Homo sapiens: one gene and its partners. The protein of the gene in region 3 purifies or fractionates together with the protein of the main gene of each other region. This does not show direct contact. Each region holds a gene or a part of one and is shown on either strand. Other genes may lie near its edges. The genes, in order: SENP7, ZNF445, SETDB2, DHX16 and IL1F10.

What was found.
Region 1: the proteins of SETDB2 (region 3) and SENP7 purify together in Homo sapiens (affinity purification with mass spectrometry; 2 studies listed by BioGRID and IntAct, with this or other methods). This does not show direct contact.
Region 2: the proteins of SETDB2 (region 3) and ZNF445 purify together in Homo sapiens (affinity purification with mass spectrometry; 2 studies listed by BioGRID and IntAct, with this or other methods). This does not show direct contact.
Region 4: the proteins of SETDB2 (region 3) and DHX16 purify together in Homo sapiens (affinity purification with mass spectrometry; 2 studies listed by BioGRID and IntAct, with this or other methods). This does not show direct contact.
Region 5: the proteins of SETDB2 (region 3) and IL1F10 purify together in Homo sapiens (affinity purification with mass spectrometry; one large-scale study listed by BioGRID and IntAct). This does not show direct contact.

The regions. Positions count from the first base shown.
Region 1 is NC_000003.12:101,503,211-101,506,729, reverse strand, and holds part of SENP7 (sentrin-specific protease 7), read left to right. Parts: intron 1-3,519. UniProt on the Homo sapiens protein: Protease that acts as a positive regulator of the cGAS-STING pathway by catalyzing desumoylation of CGAS. Desumoylation of CGAS promotes DNA-binding activity of CGAS, subsequent oligomerization and activation.
Region 2 is NC_000003.12:44,467,671-44,471,189, forward strand, and holds part of ZNF445 (zinc finger protein 445), read right to left. Parts: intron 1-3,519. UniProt on the Homo sapiens protein: Transcription regulator required to maintain maternal and paternal gene imprinting, a process by which gene expression is restricted in a parent of origin-specific manner by epigenetic modification of genomic DNA and chromatin, including DNA methylation.
Region 3 is NC_000013.11:49,450,766-49,454,284, forward strand, and holds part of SETDB2 (histone-lysine N-methyltransferase SETDB2), read left to right. Parts: intron 1-787; 5' UTR 788-1,128; coding exon 1,129-1,144; intron 1,145-3,519. Other genes in the region: SETDB2-PHF11 protein, read left to right, coding at 1,129-1,144. UniProt on the Homo sapiens protein: Histone methyltransferase involved in left-right axis specification in early development and mitosis. Specifically trimethylates 'Lys-9' of histone H3 (H3K9me3).
Region 4 is NC_000006.12:30,670,190-30,674,236, forward strand, and holds the start of DHX16 (pre-mRNA-splicing factor ATP-dependent RNA helicase DHX16), read right to left. Parts: upstream 2,818-4,047; 5' UTR 2,794-2,817; coding exon of another isoform or gene 2,767-2,793; 5' UTR 2,653-2,766; coding exon 2,446-2,652; intron 1,086-2,445; coding exon 847-1,085; intron 764-846; coding exon 601-763; intron 278-600; coding exon 221-277; intron 1-220. UniProt on the Homo sapiens protein: Required for pre-mRNA splicing as a component of the spliceosome. Contributes to pre-mRNA splicing after spliceosome formation and prior to the first transesterification reaction.
Region 5 is NC_000002.12:113,070,969-113,073,674, forward strand, and holds part of IL1F10 (interleukin-1 family member 10), read left to right. Parts: intron 1-1,349; exon of another isoform or gene 1,350-1,742; 5' UTR 1,743-1,770; coding exon 1,771-1,802; intron 1,803-2,706. UniProt on the Homo sapiens protein: Cytokine with immunomodulatory activity. Alone, does not induce cytokine production, but reduces IL22 and IL17A production by T-cells in response to heat-killed Candida albicans. Reduces IL36G-induced production of IL8 by peripheral blood mononuclear cells.

The DNA of each region.
Region 1 (3,519 bases), on a different chromosome or scaffold from region 3:
GATTAATTCAAACTTAAATTTATGCCTGTTTCTGCACTTCTGTTGGTCTTTATGCCTCTTATATGATAATTATCAGATTCCATCATATATTCTAGCTTGCTGAGTTGTCTAATGTCTACTTCTATACTATTAACACTGTGACAGGGACTGTCATTAATTTTATTTCCCCATAGCATCCAGTATGCCTAGAGTGTACTGGTTTAGAGTACCATCTCTGGAATATGACCGGTGATGGATCACTATGGTAACGTTGGGCAAGTTATTTGGATTCCTCAAATCTTAATTTCTTAATCTATAAGATGGAGATTATACATTATTGATTTCATGATATAAGGATTAAGGAAAATAATTTGTGTAAAGCACTTAGCATAATTCCAGGCAATGATAATTACTATTATGTCAAATAAATAGGCTGGGTGCTGTGGCCCATGCCTGTAATCCCAGCACTTTGGGAGGCCAAGGTGGGCAGATCACTTGAGCTCAGGAGTTCGAGACCAGCCTGGCCAATATGGTGAAACTCTCTCTCTACTAAACATAAAAAATTAGCCAGGCATGGTGCTTCCTGCCTGTAGTCCCAGGTACTGGGGAGGCTGAAGCGGGAGAATCGCTTGAACCTGGGAGGTGGAGGTTGCAGTGAGCCGAGATCGTGCCACTGCACTCCAGCGTGGGTGACAGAGCAAGACTCCGTCTCAAAAAAAAAAAAAAAAAATTATGGAATAAATAAGTGAATGAGTGGGAAAAGTTATGCTTTTAGTTTTTTGACTCATATATTTAGAATGAGAGTAATTGGAGAGATTTTCCTATATGCTAATGCTAATATACTACAGTCTTTTAAAGGGAGATACTTGACTATAAAATGTTATAGTTACCATTTCTTTTGCACTAACTATGTGTTAGTCATAATGCTAAATGCCTTAATATGGACTATCATGCTTTAATCTGAACGATTAAAAAGGCAGATATTCTCCGCCATTTTACAGATGAGAAACTGAGACTCAGAGAAGTCACAACTAGTAAGCCGAGATACAAATTTAGGTTGTCTAGCTTTAAAATATGTACTCTTGAGCATGGTAACTATACCATACAGTCTCAAGTCGAGGCACATCATATGCTTATTTAAACACTCCAGAGCTAACCTGGTATAAGATGGAGCAAGTCAGCTATAAAAAAATTGTAAATTTTTTTATTAGACAAAGTTGGCCAAGAAGAAAAAAACATAAATATTTGGGAATTCACAGTAGCATTAATGAAAGGAAATAGGGGAACATACTACAAAACAGGATGGAAGCACTTTTAACCCAGTGAGACATTTTTGGGATATAAATTTGTAAATTAAAATTTAAGAAACTGACATTCCTTTTAAAATGACATGTACTTTTTTATTTGTATAAATTTAAGGGTTACAAGTACAGCTTTGTTATATGGGTATATTGTGTGGTGGTGAAATCTGGGCTTTTAGTGTAATCATCACCTGAATAGTGTACATTGTACCCATTAAGTAATTTCTTATCCCTCACTGCACTGCTCCTAGCCTTCCAAGTCTTCAATGACTGTTATTCCACACTCTATGTCCATGTGTATACACATTATTTAGCCCCTACTTATAGTGAGAATATGTGGTATTTGACTTTCTGAGTTCTTTTTTTTTCTTTTTTCTTTTTCTTTTTGAAATGGTTTCGCTCTGTCGTCCAGACTGGAGTGCAGTGGTGCAAAAACGGCCCACTGCAGCCTCGACCTCCTGGGCTCAAGCGATTCTCCACATGCCTCACTGCAGCCTTGACCTCCTGGGCTCAAGCGATTTTCCCACCTCAGCCTCCCAAGCAGCTGAGACCACAGGTGGTGTCACTGTACCTAGCTAATTCAAATAAATATTTTTAGAGACAGGGTCTCACCATGTGGTGCAGGCTGGTCCCAAACTCCTGGGCTCAAGCAGTCATCCTGCCTTGGCCTCCCAAAGTGTTGGGATTATAGGTGTGAGCTTCTAATCTGAGTTGTTTCACTGAAGATGAAGGTCTCCAGTTCTGTGTTACTGTAAAAGACGTGAGTTCATTCCTTTTTCATTCCGGAATAGTATTCCATTGTGTATATGTAGATATGTGTTTTGTTAAATTTAAAATTGACTAGAAAATGAATTTCTACAGGATACTTTCTTATCACTTATTTAAAAAATTCTTTATTTTTGGTAGTCAACTTGAGTACTAGTTTATTTAAATTATTTGAAGTTATCAAAAGCTTAAGTGTAGAGGTGAAAATAATTTTTTTTTTTTTTTGAGATGGAATTTTGCCCTCGTTGCCTAGGATGGAGTGCAATGGTGTGATCTTGGCTCACTGCAACCTCTGCCTCCTGGGTTTGAGCGATTTTCCTGTCTCAGCCTCCTGAGTAGCTGGGATTATAGGCACCTGCCACTACACCCAGCTAATTTTTTTTTTTTTGTATTTTTAATAGAGACGGGTTTCCCCATGTTGACCAGGCTGGTCTCGAACTCCTGACCTCAAGTGATCCAACCACCTCGGCCTCCCATTAGTGCTGGGATTACAGGCATCAGCCACCGCGCCTGGCCCAAAAATAATTTTTTAGATCAGGAAAACATTACATGGTTTCTCAGCAAGTGCATGTAGTGAAACTAATGCTGTGTATTATGAACTTAGAAGAAATCATTTCAGCAATATAGATTTCTGGGTAGTCTATATTTCATTAGTTATTATTATTATTTCTGATTTTAAGTACCATACAGTACACATATCTTTAGTGTATAGTTCAGTGACTTTTTTTTTTTTTAATTTGAGACAGTGTCTTGCTCTGTTGCCCAGGCTGGAGTGCAGTGGTGCCATCATGGCTCACTGCAGCCTCAACTGCCTGGTTCAAGTGATCTTCCCACCTCAGCCTACTGAGTAGCTGGGAGTGCAGGTGCACACCACCACACTCAGCTAATTTTTGTACTTTTTTATGCAGACGGGGTTTCACCCTTTTGCCCAGGCTGTTCTCAAACTCCTGAGCTCAAGCGATCTACCCACCTCAGCCTCCCAAACTGCTGGGATTACAGGCATGTGCCACCATGCCTGGCCCCCATCACTGTTTTAACTAGTGTTACCATAGGTTTATTTTAACTCTTCTTGAATTTCTGAGAAATAGAATCATATACTCTTCTGCATCTGGTTTCCTTTGAGCATGCCTGAGAAATGTATCCATATTGTGCGTAGCAGTAATTCATTATCTTTTATTGCTATACAGTTTTCCATTATATGAATATGTTTATCCATACTTGATGGATATTTGGGTTGTTTCCAGTTTTTGGATATTAAGAACAAAAATACCTGAATATTCTTATTTCTGTTGGTTATTTATCTAAAAGTGTAATTGTTGGACATTGCATAGGCAGGTGTCTAACTTCAGTAGATGCTGGTGAAGCAGATGTACTCATTTACACTCTTAGCAAGAGTATATGAGTTCCAGTCTCTCACCAATATTTGGTGTTGTCAATCTTTTTACTTTTACCCATTCTAAAGGCTGTTTAATGG
Region 2 (3,519 bases), on a different chromosome or scaffold from region 3:
AAAAGCCTAAGTGAAAAATAATTATTCTTGCTGCACTTTATGCAAATAATCAGGCCAAGCACAGTAAGGCTAAAGTTTATTTTGTAAACAAATCAGTCCTATCATGATTTGTTTTTAATAAAAATGGGGATTGGAGAGAGAAAATTATGCTTCAAAAGAAAAACTATAGTACAATATTGTAGCTGTTCTTGAGGGTTTTTTTCTGCAGTTTAAACAAAATTCTAAATTCTTTGTGGGTTAGAAGTCCCCAAACTAATACTTTCAAATCTTTGCTTTTAAAATTGGGAATTGTACTCCTCATCCTAGGACTCATTATTTACCTTATAGTAGGCTGTTTCACTTAAATACTGCAGTAAAATTACAGATGAAAATACTAATGTTCTAGCCATGCAAGCCATGAACGCCTGGCCAAGCCTGCGTGAGTACACTCAGACAGTTGCAAAGCAGTTCCACTCTTCTCACGCTGGGGTTCACTCCCATTCCCACTATGTCCCCTGTCAGGAGGAAGAAGCCAGAGCAATCAACAGCCTTTTCCCACCTTCATAACTTACACCTTATTAAGGTGTTATAAAATCCAAAGGGAGGGACTGAAACTGTCATTGCAAAATTATGACTGAGACAGTGAAAGAGATCTAACTTAACTAACTCCATCTTGCTTCTAACCTCCAAGCTGTCCTTGTTCATTCCTGGGCACAGGCTGAACTAACTTTGGGAGAAACTTACAGTTTATAGTTTAAATAAAGACAGTAACAGATCTTTCCCAAAGCAGATCTCCTTCTTGCCTGGAGACTAGATTGCCTTTGCGGGACTAACATTAGCCACAAGATTAGAAATTATGGTTTAGGAGTCATGCAGCTGGAGGTTACAAGATTCTGACCCTCCCTAAACTGCTCCTAAGATCAGTGCTTGAGGTATTTTGCAGCCCCTGCACTTGATGGATTAGCTGGCACAACCCAGATCAATAAACTGGCTCATCTGATCTTGTGGCCCGCCCCCACCCCTCCACCCCCTCCCCCCGAGGAGCTGACTCAGCACAAGACGACAGCTGTGACTCGCTATGATTTCATCTCTGACCAATCAGCACTCCTGGCTCACTGGCTTCCCCCAACCCACCAAGTTATCCTTAAAAACTTTGCTCCGCAAATGCTGGGGGAGACTGCTTTGAGTAATAATAAAACCCCAGTCTCCCACACAGCCGGCTCTGCGTGAATTACTCTTTCTCTATTGCAATTCCCATCTTGAATCAGCTCTGTCTAGGCAGCAGGCAAGGTGAACCTCTTGGGAGGTTATAAAAGTGTAGCATTTGGCCAGGTGCAGTGACTCATGCCTGTAATTCCAGTATTTTGGGAGGATAGTGAGAGTCTGTCTCAAAAAAAAAAAAAAAAAGCATTTTATAGGATGAAATACTCACACACCTAAAAGGAATGTACTAGAATTGTTATACATCAACATAACTGCTTTACTGTACACCAGGTGATAAGGCTCTGTAGCCAAAGTTACAAGGCAACTAGGTGTCACCCAAGGAAGAGACAGTGTATGACTTGAGGTCACTGAGAAAAGACACCACCCCCACCAAGCTCAAGAGGTACAATGTTTACTTATGGAGATGGAGGGTTCACAAGATCCAGCCACTTGCAATGTGTTGGTCCCTCGTGGCCAGCAGAACCACTCCACAGTCTACACAGGTGGTGTGTGTATACACGCTTCATATTGCAGTAGAAAGACCTTAACCCCTCCTCTGTGGGGTCTGAAATGAAGAAAGATAGGAACATGCATGACGGCTGCTGATTCATGCACTCAGAAACAGAACAAAGGAGGCCTGGCATGGTGGCTTGCACCTGTAATCCCAGCACTTTGGGAGGCTAAGGCTGGCACATTACCTGAGGTCAGGAGTTTGAGAACAGCCTGGCAAACATGGCGAAACCCCATCTCTATTAAAAATACAAAAATTAGCCAGGCGTGGAGACGTACAGCTGTAATCCCAGCTACTCAGGAGGCTGAGGCAGGAGAACCACTTGAACCCAGGAGGCAGAGGTTGCAGTGAGCCAAGATCGTGCCACTGCACTCCAGCCTGGGTGACAAAGCAAAACTCCATCTCAAAAACAAAAACAAAAACAAAACAAAACAAAACAAACAAAACAAAGGAGTACATCAAGTGCAGAAAAACAAGATAGTCCCTCACAAGATGTGACACCTACAGTCACAAGATGTTAAACCCAGCAAAGGTTGTGAGGACTCTTTCGCTCTTGTAAGGAAATGTCTCAGGCCCGAGGCCACTCTTTTTTCTCACTCTGTCATCCAGGCTGGAGTGCAGTAGCACGATCACAGCTCACTGCAGCCTCAAACTCCTGGGTTCAAGTGATCCTCCCACCTCAACCTCCTGAATAGCTGAGACTACAGACATGTGCCACCCTCACTCTGCCTGACTTTTTTTTAGCGATAGGGTCTCACTATGTTGCCCAGGCCAGTCTCAAACTCCTGGCTTCAAGAGAGCCTCCTGACTTGGCCTCCCAAAGCACTGGGATTACAGGCATGAGCCACAATGCCTGGCGTCCAAGGACACTCCTACACAGCCAAGTAAGGAGAGAGAAACTGTGCACGACTGCTTTTCCCAACAATAACAAAAATATGTGCTAAGTTTGAAAGCACATCCTAAATACGAATTGTGAAAACAAAACGTACAACCGTGTGTGTGTGTGACTGTATACGCATGTATGTGAATGTACCTATAACTACTCAAAGAAATTTTAAAAGCCTGGAAGGATTCACAAAAACTCTTACTGGTGGTGGGGGTAGGAAGGTAGAGAATTGCATTTAAAAGCAACTTTATATTTTTTTTGTCTTCTATTTCCTAAAAGAAAAGAAAATTGAAAAGCAATTATTAGAAAGCATAGTTATACTGTCATTTATGTCTTAAAGCAAATGAAAAGCAAAGCAGTTTACATATGCACATAAAAGCTCCTAAGCCTCACTACCAAAGTATTTTTAGCCATGATTTCCTCTGGGAGGTGGGATGAAAGGGCTCTCCTTCCTTATTTGCCTATGTTGCCTAAATTGTTACCCATTACATTTATAAACAGCAAAGTGATCAATAATTCTCTTAAGAAGCAAAGCAATTGAGTAGCAACTCGTAGGATTGAAGATGGCAGATGCACAGTAGAAGGGACAGCACATTCTTGAGGGGGGACTTGAGTACAAACCATGGCTTCAGCTCAAGCAACTACAAAAGGATGTTCTCCAGTTGAACAGATGTAAGGAGAAAAAAAAACAGGCAAGTGAGGTAGAGAACAAGAAGAGCAAAATGCTACCAAAACACAACATGCAAAACAAAAATAAAAAACCTATCCAGAAAGAAAACAGAAACAAAGAAAAGGAGTAGCCAGCAACAATGGAAGAAAAAAAATAAAAGTTGAAGAAAAAGAGAAATACAAGCAGTGCTGCCATTAATGTTCCACAGACACAGGATCAGCTGACTCTGTACAGATCACCTGCATCCAGAATTTCTCTAATATGACTCTT
Region 3 (3,519 bases):
ACATCTTGAGAATTAAAATTGTTGATCTATTTTTGACCTATTATTCTACCTCCAGATATGTTATCCTAGGGAAATTGCCAGAGATATGTATAAAGTATATTTATTTTAGCATTATTTATTATACTAAAAATTAATCTATAAAGGAAAACAATCTAAATATCGAATATAGAGGTTTATATTATTAATTAATATTTTTATTAAAATTTAATTATTAAAATATTTAATGTACTATAATGTATGCGTTATTGACCAAAGTATGTTATACAGCCAGTTGTATTATACAAAAATATTAGTGATGGAGGAAAATGCAGGAAATGTTTTTAATGAAAGATTATAAAAAATTAAATATACTACAATCCAAATTTTTGTTTTAAAACTACATTCTGAAAGAATAACAATAATTGGTAGTATTCCTTGAATCTTTCGTATGTCAGGCACATTATATGTAATTAAGTCTTGTCCTCAGAACAACCTGTGAGATAGTTAGTATTATCCCCTTTTTAAAAGGTTTATAAAAGACTTATAAAATGGAGATAGTAATATAAATACAAATATATTAAATATGGGTGATAGGATTGGGTGGGCCTTCTCTATTATTTCTAATTTTGATACTTTACATATTTTTTCCAGATAACATAATGTTTTTTTGTAATGGTTCATGCTGTTTTAAAAGATCAAGCTGTTATAACAATATCTTATTTCCTTATATATACATATATATATATATATATATATATATATGTGGTCCTTTACAAATATGCACTATTCTTTATTGTTTTCCTTACAGAATGTTTCATCCATTTGTGGACCAAAAGATGGAGTTGGTTTTTATTTTTAAAAAGATAATGTTAATGATCTGATACCACTACAAATATTTACGTGAGAAGATTCATGGACTTGTCTTTTGGTTGGACTGTCACTCATTTCTGAAAGTTTCTTCAGCCACAATTTCTATTTGAAAATTCAAGTATCAAAGGATACCAGGTTTAGAATGGTATAATGATGTATTTTGTCTGAGGACTGCAAATTTTATAGAGACCACAGTTGGATTCCAGTGATATTCTGCAATCAAAGTGATTTGATAAACCTAATTTTGAAGCATTTTATATTTATAAGCGACATCAAAAGATGGGAGAAAAAAATGGTAGGTTGAAGAACACACTGTTACACTTTATATCTAAAAGTATAAAAGTATATAGACAATGTAAGCTGATGTGGAATTGTCAAGGTTTTGCATTGCGAGGAACTTTTCTGAATTAGAGGGAATTAAGGGTTTATTCTTGTATAGCCACCAATTTTGACTGTCTTTATCATTAGTTGTGAAAAAATTGACTTTTTTGTAAACTTTTTTTTTTTTCTTTTTTTTTGGTGATGGAGTCTCTGTCGCCCAGGCTGTAGTGCAGTAGCACAATCTTGGCTCACTGCAACCTCTGCCTCCTGGGATCAAGCGATTCTCCTGCCACAGCCTCCTGAGTAGCTGGGATTACAGGCATGTGCCACCATGCCCAGCTAATTTTTTGTATTTTTAGTAGAGATGGGGTTTCACCATGTTGGTCAGGCTGGTCTCAAACTCCTGACCTCATGATCTGTCCACCTTGGCCTCCCAAAGTGCTAGGATTACAGCACTTGCACCTGGCCAAAATAGGTGAGCCACTGCACCTGGCCAAAATACTTTTAGTGTTACAGAAAAATTGAGAGGATTGCAGAGTTCCAGTAAACCTGGTACTTAGCTTTATCTATGATTAACATTTTACATTTGGATGCTACATTTGTTACAATTAATGAACCAATATTGGCACATTATTATTAACTGAAGTCCATAGTATATTCACGTTAGTTTTTACCTGATGTCTTTTTCCATTCCAAGATCCCATCCAGGACACCACATTCCATTTACTTGTCATGTCTGCTTAGGCTCCTCCTAGCTGTGATAGTTTCTGAGACTTTTCTTGTTTTTTATTTTTTTGGGATTTTGTATCCAAATATTTTGTAAGATGCCCCTCTGTTGGAATTATTGTCTGATGTTTTTCCATAATTTGACTGGAGCGATGGGTTTTGGGGAGTGTGATCTCAGAGGTAAAATGTCATTTTCATCACATCATATCAAGGGTACATGCTGTCAGCATGATTTCTCAGAGTTGATATTGAACTTGATCAACAGAGCTTGAGCTGGCTAATGTAGGTGGTGGTATCAAATTTCTCCACTGTAAAGTTACTCTTTTTCTCCCATTCCCTGCTATACTCTTCGGAAATAAATCACTATAGGTAGCCCACAGTTAAGGAGTGGGGATTTATGCTCCCCCTCCTTAAATGTGGAATATCTACGTTAATTATATTTGGAATATTTCTGCAGGGGAGATTTATCTCTCTCTCTTCTTCCCTGTTTATTTATTCAGTTAATCATTTATATCAGCATGGACTCATGGCTATTTATTTTATACTTTTTGAGTTACAAGCCAGTACTACTTTATTTATTTTGTTTTTCAAATTGTCCCGGGTTTGGCTATTGGGAGCTCTTTCAGTTGGCTCTTTTTTTTCTTTTTTTTTTTAAGATGGCGTCTCACTCTGTTGCCCAGGTTCATGTGCAGCAGCGCAATCTTGGCTCACTGCAACCTCTGCCTCCTGGGTTCAAGCAATTCTCTTGCCTCAGCCTCCTGAGTAGCTAGGATTACAGGTGTGTGCCGCCACGCCCAGCTAATTTTTGTATTTTTAGTAGAGATGGGGGTTTCACCATATTGGCCAGGCTGGTCTCGAACTCCTGACCTCAAGTGATCCACCCGCCTTAGCCTCCCAAAGCGCTGGGATTACAGGCATGAACCACCATGTCCTGCTCAGTTGGCTCTTGTGTCCCTTTGATATACCGTCATCAGTGTAGGTATTTTTTATTTGTCTTTGTTTTATAGCACTTCCCTTTTGGCACTCGAAGATTGCTCTAGATTGCTCTCGTATATTTCTTACGCATCTTAGAGTGAGCCATTTCTTGAATAACCTGTCAATATTTTTATTGGAAAATGGTATTAGAAACCAAGGTCTGAATGATAGGTGTATTTGTTGTTACTGGAGTGTCCTTGTTTATAGGCCCTTTCAGCTGGCAGAGCAATGAAGTATATATATATATACTAACTTATATATACACAACTCATGGCTATAAATATTTCTATATGTAACTGTTTGTATCTGCCTTAAGCTAACCATGAAATTACGCTGATGTTTCCAACTCTAATCTATTACCACGTGGATCATTTTAGTCTCCTCACCTTATCTGTATGCTCCCACTCCAGTAGTAAAAAACTTAGTTCCCATCACCCACCATCCATTTACTTAATTGTTCAATTCCAGTATATATATGTAGCAGTATCAGAATTGTTAACCCTTGACTGGGCACCGTGGCTTATACCTATAATCCCAGCACTTTGAAAGGCCGAGGCCAGGAGTTAGACCAGCCTGGTAAACATGGCAAAATCCTGTCTCTACTTAAAAAAAAATAATAATAGTAATACAAAGTGGCACACGCCTATA
Region 4 (4,047 bases), on a different chromosome or scaffold from region 3:
TGGGTAGCCTCCTTCCCCCTACAACTTAAGAAGGATCCTTCCCTCAACAACATAAGTCTATCCTCAGCTGGCTCCTAACAACCAAGCCCCTCTTCTAGAAACCTGACCACCCCATCAGCATCCACACTGTGCTTCCTCTGTATCCTCTCTCCCTATACACTCTATCAGAAAGTCTTTCCTTTTGTCTTCTGATCTTGGCTCCCTAGGCCCTGGGACTCACCATGGCCTTCCGGTCTTCCTCGGCCATCTTGAGGCGCTTCTGAGCCTCTTCATAAGCCTAGAAGAAAAAACAAGAATGGAGGGGTGTGAGGCCAAAGAGCCCCCACACTGACAGCTGCTCCCCTCTAGAATCACAAGGATCATTCAGATGCGCCCTAACACAAAAAATGTCCCCTCTCAGTGAGGAATCTCTCTGATTGCAGGTACAGCAGACAGTTGTCTTAGCCACAGGATGCACAGGGCTTCTCTCACCACAGAGGTGAACATCTCACTAGAGACAGCCCCTTGTCTTCCCAGAGATCACTATCTCTGCACTCACAGCCAACCTCAGATTTCACCCTGGGATCTTGGGGATTTACAGAACATGCTGCTCCTATTCACCTTCTTGTCTGACCGTTCCAGGACATTTCGAGTCCGATCCTTGTCCCGCTGTCGAACCCGCTCAGCAAAGGCATCACGCTCCTCCAGGTCCTGAAGGCGTTCACGCTCTGTCCGTTCCCACTCATCTTCCGACTCTGGCTTCTCTGTCTGCTGTTTACTCCCCCTGCAGCCCATCCAGGGGATTAAATAAGGGCATAGAGAACACTTCAGCCTGCCCCATCCTCTCTCACCCTGCTTCTGACTTACCCTGTTTTCTTCTTCCCTTTCTCAGAAGCCTCTTCCTCCTCTTCTTCCTCACGCTTCTTCCTGAGGTGTTTCCGCTTTTTACGTTTCTTCTGGAGGCTGCTTCCAGCCCTACTCACAGTCTCCTCACTGCTCTCTTCACTGTCTTCCAGTAACCTATAAGATCGGTTCTTCTCCAGCAGGGCCCGGGCCTCTCGCTCTGCTGCCCGAGCTGGCTTTTCTACCACTGCCTTTCGTGGTACCTGTCAGTAGAGGGGAAGATAAGGAGGTCTGAGCAACTCCTGATCTCTGCCCTCCCACTTAGCTCTGTTCCTAATTTAAGCAATTACTTAGTCTTTCCTGCCCCCGCGGCCCGGCCCCACTGTCAGGCAATGGCGTGATCTCGGCTCACTTCAACCTCCGCCTCCCAGGTTCAAGCAATTCTCCTGCCTCAGCCTCCCAAGTAGCTGAGATTACAGGCACATGCCACCACGCCCGACTATTTTTGTATTTTTAGTAGAGATGAGGTTTCACCATGTTGGCCAGGCTGGTCTCAAACTCCTGACCTCATGATCCACTCACCTCAGCCTCCCAAAGTGCTGGGATTACAGGCATGAGCCACCACACCCGGGCACAATTACTTAGTTTTAAACCAGCTAACCAGCATTCATTCTCTTTCTTCCTCATGGCTTCACCCCATCTTCATCATCCTGAATGGGGTTTTTTATTTTTTTTTACAGACAGGGTTTCACTCTGTCCCTCTTGGGCTCAAGGGATCCTCCCACCTCAGGCTCCTAAGTAGCTAGAAACACAGGTGCACACTACCACGCTCAACTAATTTTTAATTTTTTTGTAGGACGAAGGTTTCGCCATGTTGCCCAGGCTGGTCTCGAACTCCTGGGCTCAAGTAATCCTCCTGCCTCAGCCTCCCGGGGTGCTGGGATTACAGGTGTGAGCCACTGCACCCGGCCCCCTCTGTTAATTAAACGACTGAAAGGAAGTTCAGAAGATGAGGGGGGCCGGGCATGGTGGCTCACGCCTGTAATCTCAGCACTCTGAGGGGGCTGAGAGAGGATTGCTTGAGCTGAGGAGTTAGAGACCAGCCTGCGCAACACACCAAGGCCTCATCTCTAAAAATAAAAATAAAAATAAAAGATATTAGCCGGGGGTGGTGGCGCGCGCCCGTAGTCCCAGCTACCGGGGAAGATGAGGTGGGAGGGTCGCTTCAACCAGGGAGGTCGACGCTGTAGTGAGCCGTGATCTTACGACCGCACTCCAGCCTGGGCGACGGGGCGAGCGAGACTGTGTCTCTCAAAAAAAAAAAAAAGAAAGAAAGAAATGCAGAAACTAAGATCCCTACTGAATCGCAATCTGCATTTTAACAAGAACCTTGGATGCATGTTAAGAGTTCGAGAAACACCGTTCTATTGCGCTTAACCCGACACACCTAAGCCCTCCTCAATCTTCTCCACTGAGCTGGGCGTCCAGCAGCTAGCACAGTACCTACGCGACAACGGACAAAGAATAAGTGCTTGTGAACTGAGCTTTCTTAACTTCTCGATGGACCGTTAGGCCAGCCTCACCGGGACAAATCACAGGGCCCCTCCCCACCCCTGCCGACACCTTGTTCCAGAGTCTCAGGGCGAAGTCCCGGGCCGGCCCACTGAGATCCAAGGTATCAGTGTCTCGTAGGCGCTGCACGAACTCCTCGGCAGAGGTGCAGCGCTGTGCGGTACCGATCAGAAACTGGGCGACGTGCCGCTCGCTCAGCCCCAACACCGAGTGCAGCTCGTCCTGAACCCAGCGCTCCAGACCCGCCGGCGTCGCCATGGCGACTCACGCTCCCTGCTCCCGGCCCTGAAGCGTCGGGCAGCCGCGCTCACTGCTGGGCCGGTCAGAGGCCTGGAGCCCTCGGCTGGAGCCTCAGCTTCGCAAGTCAGCTACCTTGGGACCTCTAGGATCTTCCGACATCCCAAAGCTGTCTTCCCGTACCGCGGAGCCCGGAAGGGGCTGTACTTTTTCGGCCTCTAAGCACTACGGTGGCCGAGCGAGTTCAAACCTCGCGGAACCATACCTGAAAACTCGGGGTAATTCTTTTTTCTTCATTTCGCCTCTGTCCAGTTTCTCTGACGCCCCCTGATGGTCAGTCTGTGAGTGCTTCGCTCACGCATTCATTCAACAAGTGAAATTAATTTAATGGATGCCTAATGTGTGCTCATTGCTTTCCGTCCCTGGGATATAGCAGAGGACAAATCAAAAGTTCCTTACCAAATTTACATTTTGCGGTGGGGGAGGGACAGGATACATAATAAAGAAAGTATGGAAATTTTATAGAGCCAAAAACTATACAAAGTAAGGGAGGAATGAAATTCTATTTCAGATTGGAAGATCGGGTCCATGCTCATAAAACATATTAGCATTGTTGGCCGGGCGCGGTGGCTCATGCCTGTAATCCCAGCACTTTGGGAGGCCAAGGCGGGCGGATTATCTGAGGTCAGGAGTTCGAGACCAGCCTGGCCAAGATGGCGAAACCCTGTCTCTACTAAAAATATAAAAATTAGCCTGGCGTGGTGGTGTGCGCCTGTAGTCCCAGCCACTCGGGAGGCTGAGGCAGGAGAATCATTTGAACATGGGAAGCAGAGTTTGCAGTGAGCCGAGATCCCACCACGGCACTCCAGCCTGAGCAACAGAGGAAGTCTCTGTCTCAAACAAACAAAAAAGTGACCGTTGCTAGGACTGGTTTGCCTGCAGCAGGAGTGAAGACAGGTCAGGTATAAGGGAAGACCTCTAGGCAGGAAGAAACTGGGGAACTGGGGAAAGTTGTTAAAGACAAAATCTCCAAACTAAGGAACAGGCAAACTGTGTTCTGCATTTTTGCTTAACAGCTTGAGAAAATCACTGGTGGCTGCTTATTTAAAAGTAAGCAAGGCCAGGTGCAGTGGCTCTTGCTGTAATCCCAGCACTTTGGGAGGCTGAGGCAGGAGGATATCTTGAGACCAGGGGTTTGAGACCAGCCTGGGCAACAGGGTGAGACCCCACCATCTCTACAAAAAATTAGCCAGGTGTGGAGGTGTGCACCTGTAGTCCCAGCTACTCTGGAGACTGAGACAGGAGAATTTTTTTTTTTTTTTTTGGAGACAGAGTCTCGCTCTGTTGCCCAGACTGGAGTGCAATGGCACGATCTCGGCTCACTGCAACTTCCGCCTCCCAGGTTCAAGTGATTCT
Region 5 (2,706 bases), on a different chromosome or scaffold from region 3:
GCAGGCACATTTAGGAGCCAATGACTTTAACTGAACACTTCATTTAAAAAATGTTGAAACTTACTTGATACTACAAAGGAAATTCATGTTCATTATAGGAAAATGTTGATATGTTTAAAAAATTACTCATAAAGCCATAGGTAAGTGGTGCAACAACACGAGTAACATTTCTATGTATGTGTCTCTATGTGTGGATTTAAATAGAATTACAGTGTACACTTGATTTATAATCTGCATTTTTCACCTAATATATTTTGAAAATTTTTATGTCCTAAAACAAGCTTCTATAATATCATCTTTAACAAACACATACATCCTTATTTATTGAATTTTGCTATAATTTCTTAGCCAATTACCTATTACTGAAAATTCAGATTTTTTTCAACTTCTTGCTATTGTAAAAAATTATGCAGTGAACATTTTTGTAAGTAAACATTTGGGCAATCCGTTATTTTTCCTAAGAGTAAGGGAAACACATGCAATCACAAAGTATACAGAATGCTTTAAGACTTTCATTCACAGCACCAACATCCCTCCAGAATTTGCACTTGTTAGTCCCTATTATCCTTCACTCTAAGTCTCAAAGTCATACCCCAAGGCCTGGGGACAGAAAATGACTTGTCCAAAGTGACAGTGACAGACCCAGTACTAAAAGCCACCTTGGCTACAGCCCTGTTTCTGGAACTTGAGAGCTGAGGTGGTTGGAAGCCGTATCCTCAGCACCCACCTGTTCCTTCTCACCTGCCTCCCCAGGGTCCCTCAGCATCTCTCTATTCCTCCCTGAGCCCTATTACTTTCTTCCACCTGCCTTCTTCCTTTCTCTTCTCTCATTTTCTGCTTTCTTATATTTTTTCTTCTCTATTCCCTTCTTATTTGGTGAGAATCAGATCTACTCGGTAAACCTCAGCCCTAGTCATACTTGCGTTACTTTCCTGAGCTAATTTCCAACTCCTGATTAGCTCTGGGTTTATTTCCATGCTAAATTCTGGACTGGCCTTTCCAATGGGTGTTCATTTTAGGGAAGAGCTCTAGGACAGGATAACCCATCGGGAAGGAGCAGAGTCATGTGAGGCTGTGTGGCCTGGCATTTATACAGGGCCACTATCTTCACTGTGCCATTTTCCATCTGGAACAGAATGGGGGAGTTTGGATGGGCTGTTTTCGGCAGTCTTGGCCAAGCACTTCTAGTCACTAGGAATGATGTTTTCCAACTCTCTGGGGAGACCCCACCAGCCTCACTGCTGCTGGAGACCCCTTCTAGTTGTGCTCTCTTCTTTCACTCTGGGCTCTAGTTATCTAACCCTTGGCTAGTTATGGGGGCGGGGGTGTGGTGCCCTGTTGGCCAACAGGGCAGTGGGACTGGGTTTGAGCTGGGCTTATCCTCCAACTGTGAGGGAGGCTACAGCACACTCCACCCCACTCTCAGGGCTGGGAATTGTTGTGGCTCAGCTATTTGGGGGAATCTGTTTTCCAGTTTCTCAGAACCAGCGCAAGCACACACATCCCAGGCTCACACCCCTGGTGGCTGGACTTGCTCCCGGATAGCCTCAGTCAGGGAGAGGCAGAGCTGCCTGGAGCCTGCTGGGCTGGTGGAAGCCTTGGTGGATTCTGGCAGGCCAATTATAGACGAATGGCCTGGGGAACCCGTGCAGCCCTTGGCTGAGTGGTTCTAAGCCCCAGCACGTCTGCCTCTGGCTTCACCCAGCCTCCTTTTCTAACTGCCCTTCTCTCCTCCCCATCAGTGAGGACCAGACACCACTGATTGCAGGAATGTGTTCCCTCCCCATGGCAAGATACTACATGTAAGTTGTCCTGGCATGTCCCTGCTTTCCAAGCCAGGGGGTCAGGGTGGGAAGAGGAAAGGAATGCTGAGTCAGAGGATGAGGCTCCTTCTCACCTTAGAAATTGCAAGTGCCCCATAATTAAGCTTCATCATCACCACAGTAGCAACAGCTCTTTCCTGAACGTCTGCAAGATGCCAGCCAATCTACTGCCTCATCTCTGTTCCAAAAAGTCTGTAAGTGGAGTGTTATTAAACCCATTTTACAGATCTGGAAGCTGAGGCTCAAAGAGGGTAAATAACTTCCCCCATGTCACACAGCTACCAAAAGGCAGAGCCAGGAATCAGACTTCATGTCCTCTGTGCTGCTCCATCCGCCTCTCTGAAATGTCAGAAAGTTTTGAATCTCAATGACAGCATCTTGATGGTGGTCCCTGTGGCCTTTACTCCCAGTGTGGGCTTCTAACACTTACTTACATTTCATCTCATTTGAGATTTGCATCCTTCCTTATCTTTTACTACTTTGTTGTCTGTGATTTTGTCATAAGCTCCTTTCAGGAAGGAGGTGAGGCATAAGAAAAATCAAAGAGGACTCTGGGATGCATTTCCTCTGCCCCTCCCATGGACCCTGTAATGTCCAGGGCTGTGTCCTGGACAAGGTGGGTGGGGAGCAGTCCTGGTCTCAAGGAGGTGACAGCCTGGCTGGGAAGCAAGACACATACATAGGAAGCACATAAATGACAAAGCAGATGTCAGCACTTCAGGGCATCTAATCTGGGTTCTGGTCTCCAAATAGAATGCTGCTGGCATGTGAGTTGTCACATCTGGGTTGTCAAGGTGGCAAGGGGAATGCCAGATAACACGCCCAGGATCTTTCCGGAAGTTTATTTTTATTGTACAAGTGAACCTGCTTTAAATATGTACAG